Regions from separate parts of the Homo sapiens genome. Here regions 2 and 3 are each linked to region 1. A link means that fine-mapping ties the variant in region 1 to the expression of a gene that starts in the linked region. Tissue or cell type: whole blood. Region 1 holds a variant in brackets; each other region holds the start of a gene. All regions are shown on one strand. Distances are between the middles of the regions.

What was found. PIP is the estimated chance that this variant, and not a neighbour inherited with it, causes the effect.
Region 2: NAP1L1 starts here. The variant in region 1 is fine-mapped to the expression of NAP1L1 in whole blood (TOPMed, PIP above 0.99).
Region 3: it holds the start of ZDHHC17, and the variant in region 1 is fine-mapped to the expression of ZDHHC17 in whole blood (TOPMed, PIP above 0.99).

Annotation. Positions count from the first base shown.
Region 1 is chr12:76,547,614-76,553,745 of GRCh38, forward strand. The region is part of intron 1 of OSBPL8 (oxysterol binding protein like 8); the gene reads right to left. Among named protein-coding and RNA genes, the nearest start is that of OSBPL8, 9.1 kb to the right of the region's middle. The variant AAAC/A (reference allele first, on the strand shown) is at 3,526.
Region 2 is chr12:76,081,728-76,087,859 of GRCh38, forward strand. NAP1L1 (nucleosome assembly protein 1 like 1) reads right to left here and starts at 2,958. Exons shown (of 15, transcript NM_004537.7): 1 at 2,840-2,958. It overlaps LOC124902970 (a long non-coding RNA gene), which reads left to right and starts at 3,358. Exons shown (of 2, transcript XR_007063379.1): 1 at 3,358-3,440; 2 at 4,484-5,006. RefSeq lists silencers at 2,273-2,342, 2,393-2,452, 2,523-2,572, 2,713-2,792, 3,233-3,392 and an enhancer at 2,688-3,229.
Region 3 is chr12:76,761,240-76,767,371 of GRCh38, forward strand. ZDHHC17 (zDHHC palmitoyltransferase 17) reads left to right here and starts at 2,876. Exons shown (of 17, transcript NM_015336.4): 1 at 2,876-3,090. The coding sequence starts at 2,998. RefSeq lists enhancers at 2,374-2,473, 2,770-3,064, 3,040-3,882, 3,074-3,223 and a silencer at 2,614-3,023.

The DNA of each region.
Region 1 (6,132 bases):
TAGCTATCACACATGAGGCAGAGAAGTAAATGAAAAAGAATAACCCCTCACCCATCTAGATACACTTGAGAAACAGAACAAAAGACTTCCAAATAATTAAAATGCCACAAGGGTCATGTGTTTAAAGCTAAAATGCCATTCCCTGGAGCAAAGTCACTATTTTACACACAATTCTAAACAGTTTCATTCAGTTTCCAAGTAGCAAACAAGAAATGGCAAGATAATCATAACAACATGCAAGTTGGGGTAGGGGACAACGAAAGGGGAAACAAAAACTATGAAGCAAGCAAGAATTCAGAGTTCAAGTTTTAGGACCAAGCGGCATAAAGGCACAAACAACTATACAAATCAATAGTGAAGGGACATAAGTGTATTTTAACACTGTATCATGATCATCATAATTTCTATGAATAAATCTGCATTAACAAAAAAATAGTTCAATAGGCTCTGTTTCTTCTGTTTATGAAGCTAGAAGAAGACTTCTAATAAAAGATGGGGCGCTAAATACAAACTTTCCCTTCAGTTACTCCAGATACTCCACTGAAATAAAAACAACTCATAAAAGAAAGAAAATCGTAACAGTAAAGAAATTAAAATTGAGGCTAGAAAGAAAATCCAACAAATTTCTGGGAAATGAAAGTATATGTGAGATTGATAGAAATAACAAGCGGAAAAAGCCACAGCCTCATTATAACCTTTAAGAGTGACATGGAAAGGATGGGAACCAATACGTCTGAGAAGATCCCCAGGAAAGCATGATTATAAAGTAAATGGTACAGCAGAGGGTGGAAATAAATAGTAGGGTTAAAAATAAGAGAACTGAGTATTACTTGACTAACTATAAGGGACAGCTATATCTCCCATCCCCTATTTCCAAGCAGTTTCTAAACAACTGACATTTTACCTCCAGGCAAAAAAACAAGTCAGCTTTTCCCTAAAGAAAGTGAACCACTATCTAGGGAAAGCTAAGCGGAGGTGTGGCACAGAGTAAACACATCTCATCCAGCATTTAAAGGGCCCATACATAGCCTAGCAGCTAGCTCCTCTCTCTTTTACCCTAAAACAATCTGCCAAGAGACAGATCCTACTCTGTACTACCTTGCCCCACAAAGTGCTCTGGCCAGAATTCCTACTCAAAGAAAAAAAAATCTAATAGGGAAAACAGTCCAAGGAACAGGGGAGGGAGGGTGACCAGGAACCTAGTCTGTCTTTCTTAACCATGAATGGACAACCAAGAATTATCAGGCACATAAGGAAAACTGAGCATGAAAAAAGAATGATTACAAAAACAAACATAAAAACTGACCGGAGGAGAAAAGGAGATAAATTAGACACAAGGAGACACAAGGTATCTTTAAAAAAATCTAATTTGCACATTCTAAGACTCAAGACGACAATACAACATAGTGTAAAAATGGTGGGAAAAGAAAAAGAGAACAACAAAACTTACAGATTACCCCCAGGAAAATCAGCCAAAATACTAAAGGGGAAAAAAAACCCACAAAATATAAAAGATGAGAGAAGGAAGATCAAGACAGAAAGCAACTGCCTACTGAAAAGCAAAAAACATGATGAAGGGAGGAAATTATTAAAGACAGAGAAGAGTTTCCTGGAATTGGAAAAATAATCTGATTCAGACTGTAAGAGCAACTGAGTATCTAGACAAACAGCCAAACAAAACAAAAATGACCTATACACCTCATTATGACTTTGTAGAAGATACAAAAGAACGGATTCTAAAAGTTTTCAGACAGAATAAAGAACAAATCACCTTAAAAGGATAGTGAATCAGACTGATACATGACTCCTTCTTTTTTTCTTTTGAGACGGAGTCTCACCCAGGCTAGAGTGCAGTAGTTTGATCTCGGCTCACTGCAACGTCCACCTCCCAGGTTCAAGTGATTCTCCTGCCTCAGACTCCTAAGTAGCTGGGATTACAGGCACCTGCCACCATGCCCAGCTAATTTTTAGTAGAGACAGGGTTTCACTATGTTGGCCAGGCTGGTCTCAAACTCTTGACCTCATGATCCACCCGCCTCGGCCTCCCAAAGTGCTGGGATTACAGGCGTTGATGTATGACTTCTAATCAGCATCCCTAGATGCTAGAAGACAACAAAGCAATCCTTTCAGGGTTCTAAAGGAAAATTATTTCTAACTAACAATATTGTACCCAGCCAAATTATCAATCATTTGTGAGAATAGAATGGAGACTTTTTTACACAGAATTCGGAAAGTTTGCCTCTCATACATACTTCTTTTTCAAAGAGTTATTTGAAGATGTACTCCAATAAACAGATCAAGCAGATGCAAAAAAAAAAAAGGAAAAAAAAATATGTATAACAGAATGGATCCAATTCAAGAGTAAGGAGAAAGGAAGTTACAAGAAAAGACCTAGAAGAGTCCAAATGGAGGCAGAGTTACAGACAAATACAGATAAATAGAGAATGCAGCACAAAAGGCAGTATGCTGAAGAGTTGGGGTGTGGGGGGGCTGGGGTGTAGGGGAGGCTATAATAGAGGCATATAGTACAAGAAAAGAGGGCAATTTAAGACACTAAGAAAAACAGGAAGTCCTATTCAAAAACTTTTTTAATTCCAAAGTTAGATTTTGGTCATATCCAAATTTTTTTTTAATTTGATGGTCAGAATTGATAAAATAAATAAAGTCTACTAATTCTCTATATTATCAACATGTTTCTTCTGGCAGCCCAGGGACAGAAAAGGAATAATCATCTAAGCACATTATCTGGCTTAGCATTAAATAATACTTACACAGTCATGGTATCAACACTATTTATTGGTTTTCATAATTTAGAGACAACCTGTGGACATGACAGCTGAGATTACAGGGGAAAAAACGTGTATTTGTTTAGGCCAGGGGTGTCCAATCATTTGGCTTCCCTGGACCACACTGGAAGAGAAGAATTGTCTTGGGCCACCCATAAAATACACTAACACTAACAATAGCTGATGAGCTTTAAAAAACAAAAAAATCTCCTTATGTTTTAAGAAAGTTTATGAATTTGTGTTGGGCCGCATTCAAAACTGTCCTGGGCCGTGCGCAGCTCACCAGCCAGGGATTGGACAAGCTTAGTCTAGCCAATAAAAAGTACAGCTACTGGTTTAGAAGAAATAATCACAAGGTAATAAATGGAAAATTCAAGTAATTTCTAAAGCTGATAAAGAGAAAGGTGAATCAACATTAAGGCTGGGTACCAGGGTTCATGCCTGTAATCCCAACATTTTGGGAGGCAGGAGTTCAAATTCAGCCTATGCAAAATAGCGAAACCCTGTCTGTACAAAAAAAATAAAGTAGCCAGCCACAGTGGCACAAACCTGTAGTCCTAGCTACTGGGGAAGGTGAGGCAGGAGGATCCTTTGAGCTCAGGAATTCTGCACTCCAGCCTGGAGTGCAGGAGACAGGAGGAGACTCTGTCACTCAAAAAATAATACAAACATATATATAGTATATCAAGGAAGAGAGGAAAACACACACACACACACTAGAAACTAGGATGTTTTATAA[AAAC/A]AACATAGCTTCCTTTATTGGATATACAGAAATGAACTGCTCCCCATGAACCTTACCCAACCCCTAAAAGGGGAAAAAGTTCTTTAATTAAGGATAATAGTTTCTTTCCATTTAAAATCATTTCTTTCAGATTCACTCATTCACTCAATCTTTAAAGCAGTAGTTCTCTACTGAGAGTGACCTTGTCCCCAGGGAACATCTGGCAATATCTTGAAACATTTTTCATTGTCACAATTAAGAAAGATGGTACTAGCATCTAGTGAGTAGAGGCCAGGGATGGTGCTATACATTCTACAATGCACAGGAACACACAACAAAGAATTATCCAGCCCAAAATATCAACAGAGTCAAGTTAAGAAACCCTACTTTAAGAAAACTCTTCAGACTTGTATAGATTTTCTCTGTTCCTCATTCTTATCATGGTGACTGGGCGTAAGATAAAGCTTTCATGGGCATCTGGAGTATTATGATTAGCCTGAATACAGACCCATGGATTGCCCTGGGGATCCTCACAGGCCTCTAAGGTTTGAATATTGGCCCTCACAGAGTCACAATGGCACATGCTGATGAATATGTTGGAACAGTATCCAGAGGATCTCCTAACTTGGCCCCACCCACCTCAGCTCCTGCTGGTACGGATATTATTACAGTCTCGACTACCTCGTCTATCCAGTCCCTGGCTTATACTTAAGGCAACACTAGCTGCTTAACAAATAAACCCCAGATTTTCGGTAGCTTCACACAATTAAAATTTCTCATTAATATTACAATCCATTGTGGGTATTCCTATTTGGTACACAAATTTCTTTCACATGGTAAATTTAGGGACTGTAGAACATTCCAATCTTATGGTTTTACTATCCCTTAAGAGCCTAAACCTCTGCATCTGGCCCTTGAATTAGAAAAGAGAAGGTGAAGAAAGAATACCTATTTTTTCTGCCACTTCAACCCAGAAGTGACAACAAATTGATTTCTATTCACATTCACTAGTGAAAAACTAGTGGCAGGCACAGTGGCTCACACCTGTAATGCCAGCACTTTGGGAGGCTGAGGCGGGCAGATCGCTTGAACTCAGCAGTTAGAGACCAGCCTGGGCAACATGGTGAAACCCCATCTCTACCAAAAATACAAAAAATTTGCCAGGCACGGTGGCACATCCCTGTAGTACCAGCTACTCGGAAGGCTAAGGCACAAGAATCACTTGAGCCCAGGAGGCGAAGGTTGCAGTGAGCCAAGATCCTGCCACTGCACTCTGGCCTGAGCAACAGAGCGATACCCCATGTCTCCAAAAAAAAAAAAAAAAAAAAAAAAAAAATGTTGCAAGCAAGAGGGAGCACAAATTTTTGTGGGCAATGAAATGAATCTGCCCTTCCCACAACCTCTGTCTACTACATGGTCCCTCCCTCACAATAGCAGCCTAATGACAGGCTTCCTGGCTCTCACTCTACTAACTTCTATTTCCTTCACTAGTCATATGTGAGAACATCCAGATCTCTTTCAGACCATGTAAGAACCATGGAAAACTCACAGAGTGCTATCTCTGGCCCCCTCTCTGCTTAAATATGCCATTTTCTTCCCTTTTGGCCACCCCAAGTCAGCATAGGGCCAGTGCAATAGGCTAGTAAGTGGCTGTACCAGTTCTGAACTTTGGCAGTCTGGCTCCAGGGTTCGTGCTATTCTGCCTCTCCAGATTTCTAAAATAGGTGATAAGACAGAGCACTTCCATTACTACCAATGGATATTTGTAAAGCACCTACATCTTGCAAAACAGCCTAGAACTATTACAAACTCCACACTATGATGCACAGCACTGCTTTTCTTTACTTCCAAATTGCTGATCTTACAAGTTATTATAATCATAACAATGCACAAAATTACACACTAAGCAAAGCTAGTCTCCAGAAGTCCCTCATCCTACTCTCCACTTGAACAATGTACCTGTGCCCTCACATCCAAAGCACCCCACCTCATTACTCTACCCGGTAATAATGTTACTTAGATTGAACTTCTCTCTCTCCAGATCTACCATACTTCCATCCCATCAAAATATACCAACATAGATTCCATAATTTCCACATGGGCCCCAGCCTTCCTTGTAAAAAATTATGTAATCTGACAAACTATTCCTGCTAATATGTAGGCATTTGGCAGCCAAAAAGCAAAAATTACCTTACTGGTGGTCATCTCAACAGGACAGATTTCAACTGTACAGATCTGTGTCCCTCAAATATCACTAAATAGGCCTGGCATGGCAGCTCACATCTATAATCCCAGCACTTTGGGAGACCAAGGTGGGAGAATCATTTGAGGCTAGGGGTTCAAGACCAAGCTGGGCAACATAGTGAGACTCTGTTTCTAAAAAAAAAAAAAAAAACTTAAAAATTAGCCAGGTGTGATGGTATTCGCCTGTAGTCCCAGCTACTTGGGAGGCAGAGACAGGAGGATCACTTGAGCCTGGGAGGTCGAGGCTGCAGTGAGCCATGGTAGTGAGTGCCACTGCACTCCAGCCTAGGTGACAGCTCAAGACCCTGTATCAGAAGAAAAAAAAAAAAGGCCAGAGGAGGTAGCTCACGCCTGTAATCTCAACACTTTGGGAGGACGAGG
Region 2 (6,132 bases), 470 kb before region 1:
TAATGTTCTGTAGTCATTGTGCTAAACGACTTACATATGGATAGGTGTAAAGTAACAACTCTCTCCTTCTAACCCCTATTCTGCCCAAAAACTTATTTAGATGAAACTAGTTTGAAATGGAACTTAAAATCATCAAATTATAACAGGTTCCTTTGTGTAAACGCTGTATTACTCTTTGACCCCTTTACCCTTTCCTTCCTTTATAGCTCTCATCACAATTTAACATTCTACATCTAAGCAACCAATTTGCCTCTTTTGCTCATGACATAAGATACATGTCCATACAGGTGCTAGATAGTTACCCAAAGACTAAACTGAGAACACAATTACAGGTTTGATTAAACTTGAAGATCTGAATACACTGATCATTAATATTTTGATATTGATGAGTCATTCTCTCTAATCCTTTGTTTCAAATTTACAACCAAGAAGTGAATAAAATATTGTATTTTGACATCTTCAGACCTTTGAAGTCCAACAGATACTGCTTCTTTAGCCCCTTCTACAAAAAGACCCTTAGTTTTGAATATATTTTGAGAATTTAGAATCAACTCAGTTTTACCAGGAGCCAACAGGAGCAAGCTGAATAAAATGAGATGGCATTTTGGATTACATTAGTTATGGTACAGGTATTCGTTTCAAAAATCTCATTAAAGGCCAAGTGCAGTAATTTACCATATTCAGTATTAGCTTTATAATTCTGCAAATCAATGGGCCTAATATAAAAATAGGCACTTTGTAGCAGATAAAATTTAGAAAGATATTCAAATTGGTATAGTGAAAACTTTTAAATTTCTATTTACTAACATAATGTTGACTTGGAGAATCTATGAAAGTCAGGTTTTATGACAGAAGATGTCCAAGTCCACCTACCAGGGTTTAGTTCCATACATTCTCCAAAGGACAGTATTCTTAGAACTAAACTATAGATTTAGGCCATTTATTTAAACTTGGGCAACTTCAAACAAGCTTGAAACACAAGAGTGCCTTGAAAATAACTGTAAAAGTCATTTACTTCCCTTCGATTTTTAAATGGTACCCTATACATAAAAGGTTTTTCCCTTATTCAATCAAAGGTAATGTATATTACTTCCAAAGTATAGGAGTATTAATTTAAGCTGACCAAAAAAAGAGGACCCAGATACTCGTTTCCAAAGATGTTTTGAATCCACCTATTTTCAAAAGGCCAAATTTCATTTTACAGCTCTTGTGAAACCAGGCAAGCAGTGTAAATTTTAAAATGCAGCAGTGGGATATCTTCAAATGTAGCAGTGAGATTTTTAAAATGTAGTTGTTTCAAAACTGATCAGTGACCGTCTAAAATACGGGCTCCTTGAGGACATCCTGCGCCTGGTTCATCCTTTTTGCACTCTCAAAGTCTAGCCTTCCCAGATGGGACCTCAGTCCCAGCCCCCCTACACTGCCATCCCCCAGATCTTTAGGGCAGTAGGGTTCATTGACAAGGTTGCAGGCTACAAACTTGGCAAAGTTTATACTAACACCTCATTCCATCCCACCTCCCATCTTAAAAAGGAAACCGTTAAGTATCTTATTCTAGTGACTTCAATAAAGGAACTAATTTATAAGACAGCCAAGAACAATTAAAGTCATAAAGGGCCAAACATTTTATTTTCATCTAAGAACCGTTTGCAGGGGTGGTCCGATCTTTTGGCTTCCCTGGGCCACACTAGAACTGTCTTGGGCCACACGTAAAATACATTAACTAGCTGATGAGCTTTTTTTTCCAAAAAAAAAAAAAAAAAAAAAACCTCATGAATTTGTGTTGGGCCACATTTAAAGCCGTCCTGGGCCGCGGGTTGGACAAGCTTGGTTTAGGGGTTTAGATCGATCAGGATCAATACTCCCCAAATAAAAAACCCTGATCAAGACACCCATCTAACAGTACCTGGGAAACACAATAACAACCTTTTGCTAATAACAGTTAATATAAGCGCTATATACGCGTTAACTTTTTAAAATACTAGCAGTGGAGGCCCTTCCTTATCATCAGCTAACATCCACAATCTCTGGTACCAATAAAAAGATTAAGACCAAAGAGAAGCAGGGAAGAGTTTGAAACCCAGGGACAGGGCTTACTCGCTTACCCTTCCTTTTCACATTCCACCGTCTCTACAACTTTCAAAGTAAGCACAGACCGAGGGCAAGGGTCTCCAACCAGGCCCAGCCAGTGGCCATGAAGCCCATTACCACGTGTGGAGCGAAGCCGCCGGGGGTTTCCCCTCCCCGCGCGGCCGCCCCCAATGGGCGGAGAGCCCGGGAGCGTCGCAGCCTCCCCCGCCCCCTCCCCGCCTCGGGGACTCGTCCCTCCACAGCCCCTCCCTCCCGTCGGAATTCGCAGCCTCCGCCGTTCTTTTCATCTCCCAGCGGCCTCCCTCCTGGTATTATTTTTGAGGGAAAAGCAGGGGGGTGTCCAAGAGGCGGCCGGCTCTGCACTCGGCCCGGCCCGTACGCCGGGGGCCTCCCGGTCCTCGCGGCGCAGCCGAGTCTCAGGGCACCCGGGCGTCACCGCGGCCTCGCTCCGGTCCACGCGGAAAAGACGGTGGAGCTCAGAGAACCTTAGGCCTCCAGGCCGCGCCAACCCCTACGTCGCCTCAGCCGTCCCCGATAAAAGCGCTGGTCGGCCCCGGGGCCCCTCTCAGGCTCCGGGGTCCGGACTCCGCGGTCCTGTCCGACCTCACAGGACGACCCCGGAGGCCACGGGCGGCCAGCGGCCCCGACTCCCGGCTCCCAGTCCCTCCATCCCTCCGGCCCTCCCATCTGCGCAGGCCGCCCAGCCAACACCACGTTCCCCCTTCCCTTCCAGGCCCCCATCCGTTACCGGCGACTAGTATGGGGAGCCAGGCGGCCGGAGCTGCGCAGGCAGTGACTCAGGGCGGCAGCGGCAGCAGCAGCGGGAGGAGCAGGAGGCGGCGCCGCGAGCAGATGGCGCTAAAAAAGACCCAAGAGCCCGCCGCTCGCGCTCATATACAATTAGCGTCAGCACGTAGGGCCCTTTCGCCGCCCTCCTCCCGGCCTTGTAGTCTCCCAGCAACGCGAGCGAGAGGCGGGTCCAGGCCGGGTTGCCTAGCAACTGAACCGTCCTCCTTCCCCGGCGACCTCCATACCCCCACCGAGGACTCCTGCAGCCCCGAGGCCCAGGCGCCGCGCTTGGGCTCCTCTGGTTCCCGCCGGTGTCTAACCTCCTCTGTTAAGCACCCCACCATATCTTTTCTCCCTGCTGAGCCGGAAAGGAAATTTCAACCCCATCAGTTGTGGGGAAGGCCTGGCCCGCGTGCCCGGCGCCCGGCCCGCCCCGCCCCCTTCGGCGTTGTGCTGGGAACGCTCAGGGCTGGCGCCAGTCGCCTGGTCCCTCGCTCGCCGCAGCCTAGACGGCGGACGCTCCCTGTCAAGGCCTAATTCCTGCAACTCGCCGGCCCCCGGTAACCGTTTTCCTTCCCCGCCTAAGAAAAACAGTTTTTTCCTCTAGACCACTTCGGCGGCCTCTTCTGACAGTTTTGCTTCTCCTATGCCAGCGGGTCTCCGCGCCTTTAGGGGGTGCTCGTCATCCTTTGCCCCCCAACCCCCCGCCACATCCTCGTAACTGATGTACAGTCCGTCAGTTCGGCTTCAGTTCTTTTGACGGATGAAAATGGCATATTTGTGCATTCTCTGGATGCGTTATAATGAGGACACTCAGTACGTCCGTTGTTTCATCTTTCTGAAAAAGTAAATCACATTAAATCCTCAGGCTTGTAAAACCTCATAGCTAATTTTCAAGTGATGATGAATTGACTAATACTAACTCAAAAAGTTGTTCTCAGAGTATGGTCTGAGGGTCCCCAGACCCTTTCATGGGGAAGGTCAAAACTATTTCCATATTAATGTCAAGACTGCCTTTTGCATTCTCATTCTCTCACAAGTGTACAGTGGGGTTTTCCGGAGGCTACGTGACATGTGATAAGGAAACAGACTGAAAATAGAAGCAGATAGGAGAATCCAGTCATCTGCGGTTAAACCAGACGTTAAAGAGATTTGCAAAAACTCGATTTGGGGGCAAGGGGGAGTAGTTATTTTTCATATAAAAATTATTTTTTGTTAATATTTGATTGCTTTATTGTTTTTAAATGAAATACTCTTAAAATTTCTCACTTTTAATTTCTGATATAAATATCAGTATCAGTAATGCACATAAAAGTTCTTTGGGGTCCTCAACTTTTAAAGGAGTGTAAAGGAATCCTAAGACCACAAAGTTTGAGAACCTCTTCTCTAAATCTTGCATTTATTGAAACTTCAAACTGCCTAGAATCCCCTATTGTAATCCACACATTTAGCAACTTTATCTTCCGTTTTAGGGGATACAATGTTTTCCTTGGCCCTCCAGAACCTCATTGAAATTATTTGCCTTCCCACTCTATACTGCAGACGACTCTGTTTATTCATTCATTTTAGTTTTTCATATACAATTCCTTTGTTGTTCTCATAGCCTATTCCTGTACACCCTTCTCAACAATGATGTAATGATACAAGGAGCATAATAGCATCAATAATGGATCTTCAGGAAGAACCCACTATACATAAACAAGGTAGACCAGTGCTCAGTTTGAACATAAATTTGACACATTAATTTCAATAAGAACTTCAGGAATGTTGCATTTTAATCAAAGCTGTGCACGATGCAAGGTAATTAGCATATTAAAATGAACTAAATAACTTTCACTTTCTTTCCATAAATCTTTATGGTAGCAGAATTTCTGAGACAAAATTGAGAAGTTAGCTTTTGTGGTGGTTTTTATCCCACACCAGAGAGCCTCATCAATTTTCGGCACTTCGCTCATGAAGGCTCTGGATTTTTTAGGTTTCACCACCCCCCCACCAACCCCTATAACTTAGGTGTTATCATTACCAGTACATATGCTCTTTCCCCCTTTTCTCCAGCTTCCTCTTCTTTTTTCAGTGTATCCTAGCCAATCTAAGAAACTAAACAATAAAATATTTCTAATAATGCATGCCTTTGTAATATAGTCTTTTGAACCAGTTTGTAAATCTAAGTCTTTGCCATTAAAGTTCAGGGAAGGGCAGACATTTATGCATTCATTCAACAAATATTTATGTCAGGCACAACTTCGGACTCTGGAAATACAGCATTTAGTAAGAAAGACACGGTTCTTGATTTTATTGAAGTTATGGTCTAGTGAGGTGAGGCAAATGATTAGAGATAAAATAATTTTACTAATAAAATATTAGTAATAAAACAATTTCACTTATCAATAATAAATAATTGATAAGTGAATGCTATAAAGAAAATAAAATGAGAAAAGGGGTAGGAGGTGACTGACCTGAAGATACCTTTGAGCTTTTTTTTTTTTTTTTTTTCGACGGAGTCTCACTCTGTTGCCCAGGCTGGAGTGCAGTGGCGCGATCTCGGCTCACTGCAACTTCTGCCTCCCGGTTTCAAGCAATTGTCCTGCCTCAGCCTCCCGATTAGCTGTGACTACAGGCAGGCGCAACCACGCCCAGCTAGTTTTTTTGTGTTTTTAGTAGAGATGGGGTTTCACCATGCTGGTCAGTCTGGTCTCGAGCTCCTGACCTCAAATGATCCGCCTGCCTCAGCCTCCCAAAGTGCCGGGGTTACAGGTGTGAGCCTCTGCATCCGGCCACCTTTGAGCTTTTTACATTGGCCCCTCTTATACCCCCAAATCACACAATGTAGTTAACTCATCTAACTTAATTGCAATAAATGGTGACCCTGGTCACTGATCTTGGGCCATGCGAAATTTTCTGTTGCAGTTCCTTTTCTCATGCTCTCTTTGGAAGCATATATACTAAAATTAAAGGTCCTTTTTTCTCTATCTCCCATGATTTTCATTTGGTAGACTTTTATAGCATTGTAGCCTGGAGGCTTAGAGGGGTGGCTTTGGAGTCAAACAGCCTATTTTGTCCCCATTTTTCTACCACTTAATAGCTGTGTAACTTTGGATAAGTCAGTTAGCCATCCCAGGTTTCATTTTCCACATCTGTAAAATGGGGAAAATAAGCATGCATTTTTCATAGGGCTGTTGTGAAACTTAAAAAAATTTTTTTTTTTTTAAGTCAAGAGGGATCTTGGTATATTACCCAGGCTGGTCTTGAACT
Region 3 (6,132 bases), 210 kb after region 1:
CAGGAGTAAAAATATCCACAGAGCCAGGCAGGTAATGAGAACGAGTAAAGCAGGCCATAGACCTGGTAGAGACTGAGCAAGAAGGTCAAGATGGCTTGTTTGCCAGATGAACTAGAACTCTAGATTTTAAAGTGAACTCTGATTTACTGATTTTCGCAGGGAAGGCTAAACATTTCTTTTATGAATACTCCACATCATATACCTGTACCAATATTCCTAATACATGGGTACCTGAAACATTTTCTCCAGTTTTCCATGCCTAGTTTCTTTACACTCTCACTTCATTCAATGCTTTATTAATATTTATGCCACTTAACTTTTTCAGTCGGTGTCCTTTATTTACTCTAATCTTCTATTTCTAGTCAATGCAAGACATAAAGGTAAGGAAGGGCAAGATTCAAAATTGAGATTTTTGGCCGGGCGCAGTGGCTCACGCCTGTAATCCCAAGATTTTGGGAGGCCGAGGTGGGTGGATCACGAGGTCAGGAGTTCGAGACCAGCCTGACCAACATGGTGAAACCCCATCCCTACTAAAAATACAAAAATTAGCAGGGCATGGTGGCGCGCCCTTAATCCCAGCTACTCAGGAGGCTGAGGCAGGAGAATCGCTTGAATCTGGGAGGCAGAGGTTGCAGTGACCTGAGATCTCGCCACTGCACTCCAGCCTGGGCCGCAGAGCAAGAAAGACTCCGTCTCAAAAAAAAAAAAAAAAAAAAAATTGAGATTTTTGGCTGGGTGCGGTGGCTCACGCCTGTAATCCTAGCAATTTAGGAGGCAGACGCGGGTGGATCACCTGAGGCCGGCAGTTCCAGACCATCCTGACCAACATGGAGAAACCCTGTCTCTACTAAAAATACAAAATTAGCCGGGCATGGTGGCGCATGTCTGTAATCCCAGCTACTTGGGAGGCTGAGGCAGGAGAATCGCTTGAACCTGGGAGGTGGTGGTTGCAGTGAGCCGAGATCGAGCCATTGCACTCCAGCCTGGGCATGAGTGAAACTCAGTCTCAAAAAAAAAAAAAAAATTGAGATTTTTGAGTGAAAATGACTTATGTCCATGTTAACATATGACTGAAAACAATTCGATGCTCCAAGGGCCGACCCTGAGACTATCTAGCTGTAAAAGATGACTCCTAGTTTGGGCCAGGACGAACAGAATGAAAATCAGCTCGGACTGAAATGAGAAAAAGTAGTTGTGCTGGGAGGACAGATACAGAAAAAGCCAGCAGCAAAGTTAACTGAGAAACTTCTTTCTCCCACAGCCGTGCAGTAGCTATGACACGCCATATTCACCCCTCTTTGAGTAACTGCTGCTCTTACTAGTGTTGCTACTTTATTACTGGAGGTACCTAATTACTAAATTGCTGTATCCTCAAGACAGCATCCAATCCCTCGTAAATCCCAGCTTTTCTTCATGCCGCCACGGAAACGGCGTCCCATGCAGAACTGATTCTGGCTCTCCTTAGACCCTCCTCAGACTCCTTTGGCGGGAAACTAATCTTACAAAGGAGGCTTCCTCTTTCCTTTTCCAGTGGCATTCCAAGCTTCCTTTGGAGTGCCCTCCCTCCTGATTTACAAATTGGCCTGACGTTATCGGAGTACAGGCTTTTTCCTGGTGGTTTCTGGCCTAACAGGAGACAGATTAGTAAGTACCAGGATCTCTAATAGGTCAACTTTCATGATCTCTGCTAAATTCTCAGCTGTTTAGACTTACAATTTTTAACAGCTAAAAGGAAAGACAAATGCTATCTAAAACTGTCCCATCAGCCCATTTACAGGGAGCACCTCCCCCATACCGCCCTAAAATCCTTTAAAAAATGGCTTTAGTCATTTTATCTGCCTTGCATTTAAGCGAATTCAGTTTAAGTGGCTTCAGTTCTGAATTCCTGGATTATATCGAAATGTTGCAGATGGCGGTGTGTGGGCTTTGAGCTCGTAAATTTTTTGTGTGGTACTAATTCAAGACGATTGAGAGCAGGTTGGGATCATTTTAAAAAGAGTTCTCGGCAGGGTGTGGTGACTCAAGCCTGTAATCCCAGCACTTTGGGAGGCCGAGGCGGGCGGATCGCTTAAGGTCAGGAGTTCGAGACTAGCCTGGCCAACATGGTGAAAACCCGTCTCTACTAAAAATACAAAAATTAGCCGGGCGTGGTGGCGTGCACCTGTAATTCCAGCTACTCGGGAGGCTGAGGCAGGAGAATCGCTTGAACCGGGAGGCAGAGGTTGCAGTGAGCTGAGATCGCGCCATTGCACTCCCGCCTGGGCGGCAAGAGCAAAACTCTGTCTCATTAAAAAAAAAAAAAAAAAAAAAAAAAAAAAAAAAAGGGTTCTCTAGTAGGAAGTCCCGAGTTGTATCCATGTTTTTCCGGGCGTCCCCCGGAGGGACAGGTTGCGGGTGACCTTTTCAAGTGTGGAGGAAAGGGAAGCTGCTTTTGTCTTCAGGAATGATGCAGGTCTCGACTCAAGCCTGACGGGCCCAAACCTCCCTGGAGCTGGCTGACGACTCTGCCCGAGTTCCTGAAGAGGGGTCCCGGGGGTCCCGGAGCGGAAGTGGGAGCGCGTGGGCGTGGGCTCCTCGGCTGCCTGGGGCTCCAGACTTGTGCTGCGTGCGGCTCCGGAGCTCTGTTCTCGCTCCTGAGCAGCTGCTAGGTTTCCCAAGCGACTGTCTCAACCGCCCGGCCGCCTCCCCCGGGCAGCCAGAGCTTCACATCTACCTCCAGCCGGGACCCGCCCCCGAGCCGCGGGGCCCACGCCCAGAGCCCTCCGCCGTCCCCAGCGCAGTGCAGCAGAGCGCGATCCAGTCTGGGGCCGGGCCGCGCTTCCGCGCACGCGCGGAGAAACCCGCGCCCTCCGAGGGGGGAGGGGACAGAGGGGGCGTCACGGGGGCAGGAGAAGAAGGAGGAGGAGGCCCGCGTCGCCTCCGGCGGGGCTCGCGCTCGCCCCGCGCTCGCCCTCCGCCTCGCCCGAGCCCCGGGAGGGTGAAACGCTTTCTCCCAGCATGCAGCGGGAGGAGGGATTTAACACCAAGATGGCGGACGGCCCGGATGAGTACGATACCGAAGCGGGCTGTGTGCCCCTTCTCCACCCAGAGGTGAGGAACCGTGCTGAGTGGATTCCTTGCCCTGCGGCCCTCCAGCCTTTCTTCCCCGGACTCGCCGAGGGCGGCGGCCGACGTGTGTGGGGTAGTGGGACGTGCCGAAGTTGGGGAGGGTGGGGAGGCGAATCCAGGCCTGAGCGCGGCTGCGAGCGGATAACGGGGGAGGAGATAGCGGGGCGGGCCCGACCGGGGCGGGCTCTGGGACGCAGTCCCTGGCTGTGCCTGGAGGACAGAGGTGGAGGTGTTGATGGTTCTGCTGTGTCGCCGCGCTGCGTTTGAGAGCAGAGGCGGAGGGGCCTGGTGTGGTTTTTGAACCGCAGCTTAGACCCTAGTCTTGCTCCAAGCCTCTTGGGGCCAGGTGGAAGCGCGTCTGGTTTTGATTTCTTTTTCCTTCGCCAGGGTGAATGACGGTATCTATTGCTTCCTTTTAGTCCACTGTGAGGGGACAGTTTCATGGGCATAGTGATGTCCTTCCAGGTAATGCCATGGGTAGCACCTCGGGCACCTTGTGTCGGGCGTCCTTTTTTGAGCATTTGTCCTTAAGCGATTAAGAAGAGAGGTAAAAACTTTTGGGAATAGACTTACACTCACATTAGCTTGTCAAAGTACCGTTTTTCTAGGAGCTAGGGGTGGACAGTGCAACACGTTTCCCATCACAACATGAGTGTCTTCCCATGTAAGTAAACAGTGCCCCGCTCCACAGTCAGTCAGTCTGTGCTTGTTTACCTCCGAGTTTGTAGCTGAGCTAGTGCTAGTTAAGGCTTGGAAGCAATTCTTGATGCATTCTGATTTTTAGTGATCCACAGTGATGTCTGTATGCGGCAGCGGCACAGTTTGCTGAAGAACTCGGGTAGTTTTCATGAGGTTAAAAGATGACAGTCGTGTTGTAGGATGAACAAACATGGAAGTCTCTACCTGGTTACTTTGCAATGGAGTGATTCTGTTTTTTTCTGGATTTGGGTTTGTACCATGCCACTAGTTTTTGTTAAAAAGTGAATAATGACAACCATCCTTTTATGTTGCATGTTAACACTCAACCACCCTCTCATTCGTCACTTTGGTTTATCAAAAACACATGGGACAGTTCCTTCGGAATATATACCTGTGCCAGTCTCAGTAGAAAAGGCTACTCTGGGTTTCTGATAAACAGAACTATACAGTAAGACTAAACACTTGTCTGACCAAAGTGGTAACATTTTCAGAACTGGCATTGTAGACATCTCTTTTGGTTCACTTAGGCCCTAACATACGTCAGGAAATAGACAAAGTAGTTTTCAGATGTTGCCTTGAAAATGTTGCTAAGTGATTTCTATTCATCTGTTCCTGTGAAAGTATTCGTGAAAGTATTTCAAACACTTAAGTGTTTATCCAGTTTATTTTTTTGAGACGGGGTTTCTCCCTGTCCCCCAGGCAGGAGTGCACTGACACGATGACAGCTCACTGCAGCCTCTACCTCCAGGGCTCAAGTGATCCTCTCCCCTCAGCCTCCTGAGTAGCTGTGACCACAGGCTCGCGCCACCATACCCGGCTGATTTTTTTATTATTTGTAGAAGAAGAGGTCTCCCTATGTTGTCTAGGCTGGTCTTGAACTCTTGAACTCAAGTGGTCCTCTCACCTTAGCTACTTAAAGTGCTGGGATTACAGGCATGAGCCACCATGCCAGGCCTATCTTACGTATTTTAGCATACTGTTCTTCATAAACCTTTGCTTTGTAATATAGTACTGTTGTTTGCTACTTTAAGAATAATTTTAACTGGCAACAAATCCAGATTATTTGGTGTAGTAGAATGGCCAGTATAGGCTTGAAATTTAGCTACCGATCTTCAGGTTGCCATTCGATAGATAGGATATTACTAGAAAGTCAACCTCCTCATCATTGATAGTGGGAATTGGCATACATAATATATACCGTTCCTTTTTACCCAAGAAGCACAAGGTCTGATTATTTTAATACTTTGGATGGACCTTAAGCTTGTACTACATGGCTGAGGTCTTTCTGCATTTTCTGTGGTTAGTGTGTGCAGCTGGTGCAGACCTGGGGTAGTTCTGCTGCCTCCTAGCAGTGTGTTCTTGGGCAAGCTATGAATACGTCTCTGAGTTCTAGTTTCATCATTTATAATGGATAAAAATAATAGTTAATAAGCTATAGCGAGGATTAACTGAGATAATATGTTTTTGTTGTTAAAATAAGCAGTGTTTTCAGTCTCCTTTGGGAAGAAACCCATTCTCTGTCTTGGTAAGTAATGAAATAATAGTACTTTTAACCTCTTTTTGGAGAGAACATAGACTTTGGGTCAGACAGACTTGGATTCTAATTCTGGAAATTCGGTAACTAGCTAAGTGACCTGAGACAAGTGCTTAATTTCTTTAAGCTTCAGTTGTAATCAGAAAATGGAGATCCTGGCTGGGCTCGGAGGCTCACACCTGTAGTCCCAGCACTTTGGGAAGCCGAGGTGAGAGAATCACTTGAGCCCAGGAGTTCGAGACCATCCTGGGCAACATGGCAAAACTCTGTGTCTACAGAAAATACAAAAATTAGCTGAGCATGGTGGTACACGCCTGTAGTCCCAGCTAATCGGATGCTGAGGTGGGAGGATTGCTTGAGCCTGGAAGGTTGAGGCTGCAGTGAGCCATGATCGAGCAGCTGTACTCCATCCTGGGTGACAGAGCAAGATTATGTCTCAAAAAAAAAAAAAAAAGAAAAGAAAAGAAAATGGAGATGCTGCCTAGTTTACTTGGCTGTAAGGGATTAAGTGAGGCTATATGTTGAGGGTCAAGAACTGGCACATTGTAGGTGCTCAGTTAATGTTACTTCTTTTTTCTCTACCAGAAGAAAGGGAAGTGTTACACATTTATTTTGGTTTTGGTGACTGATTTAAAACTTATGTGGGTTTTAATTTAGTGGAATAGGATCTTGCAGGAACAAATTTCATTTCACTTTTTATCTTCCAATTTAATACTCTCACACAAAAACAGTTTTTCACTTTAGTATTTGTTAAGCAGATGAATTATTTGTGGGTAAAGAAATGAGCATTG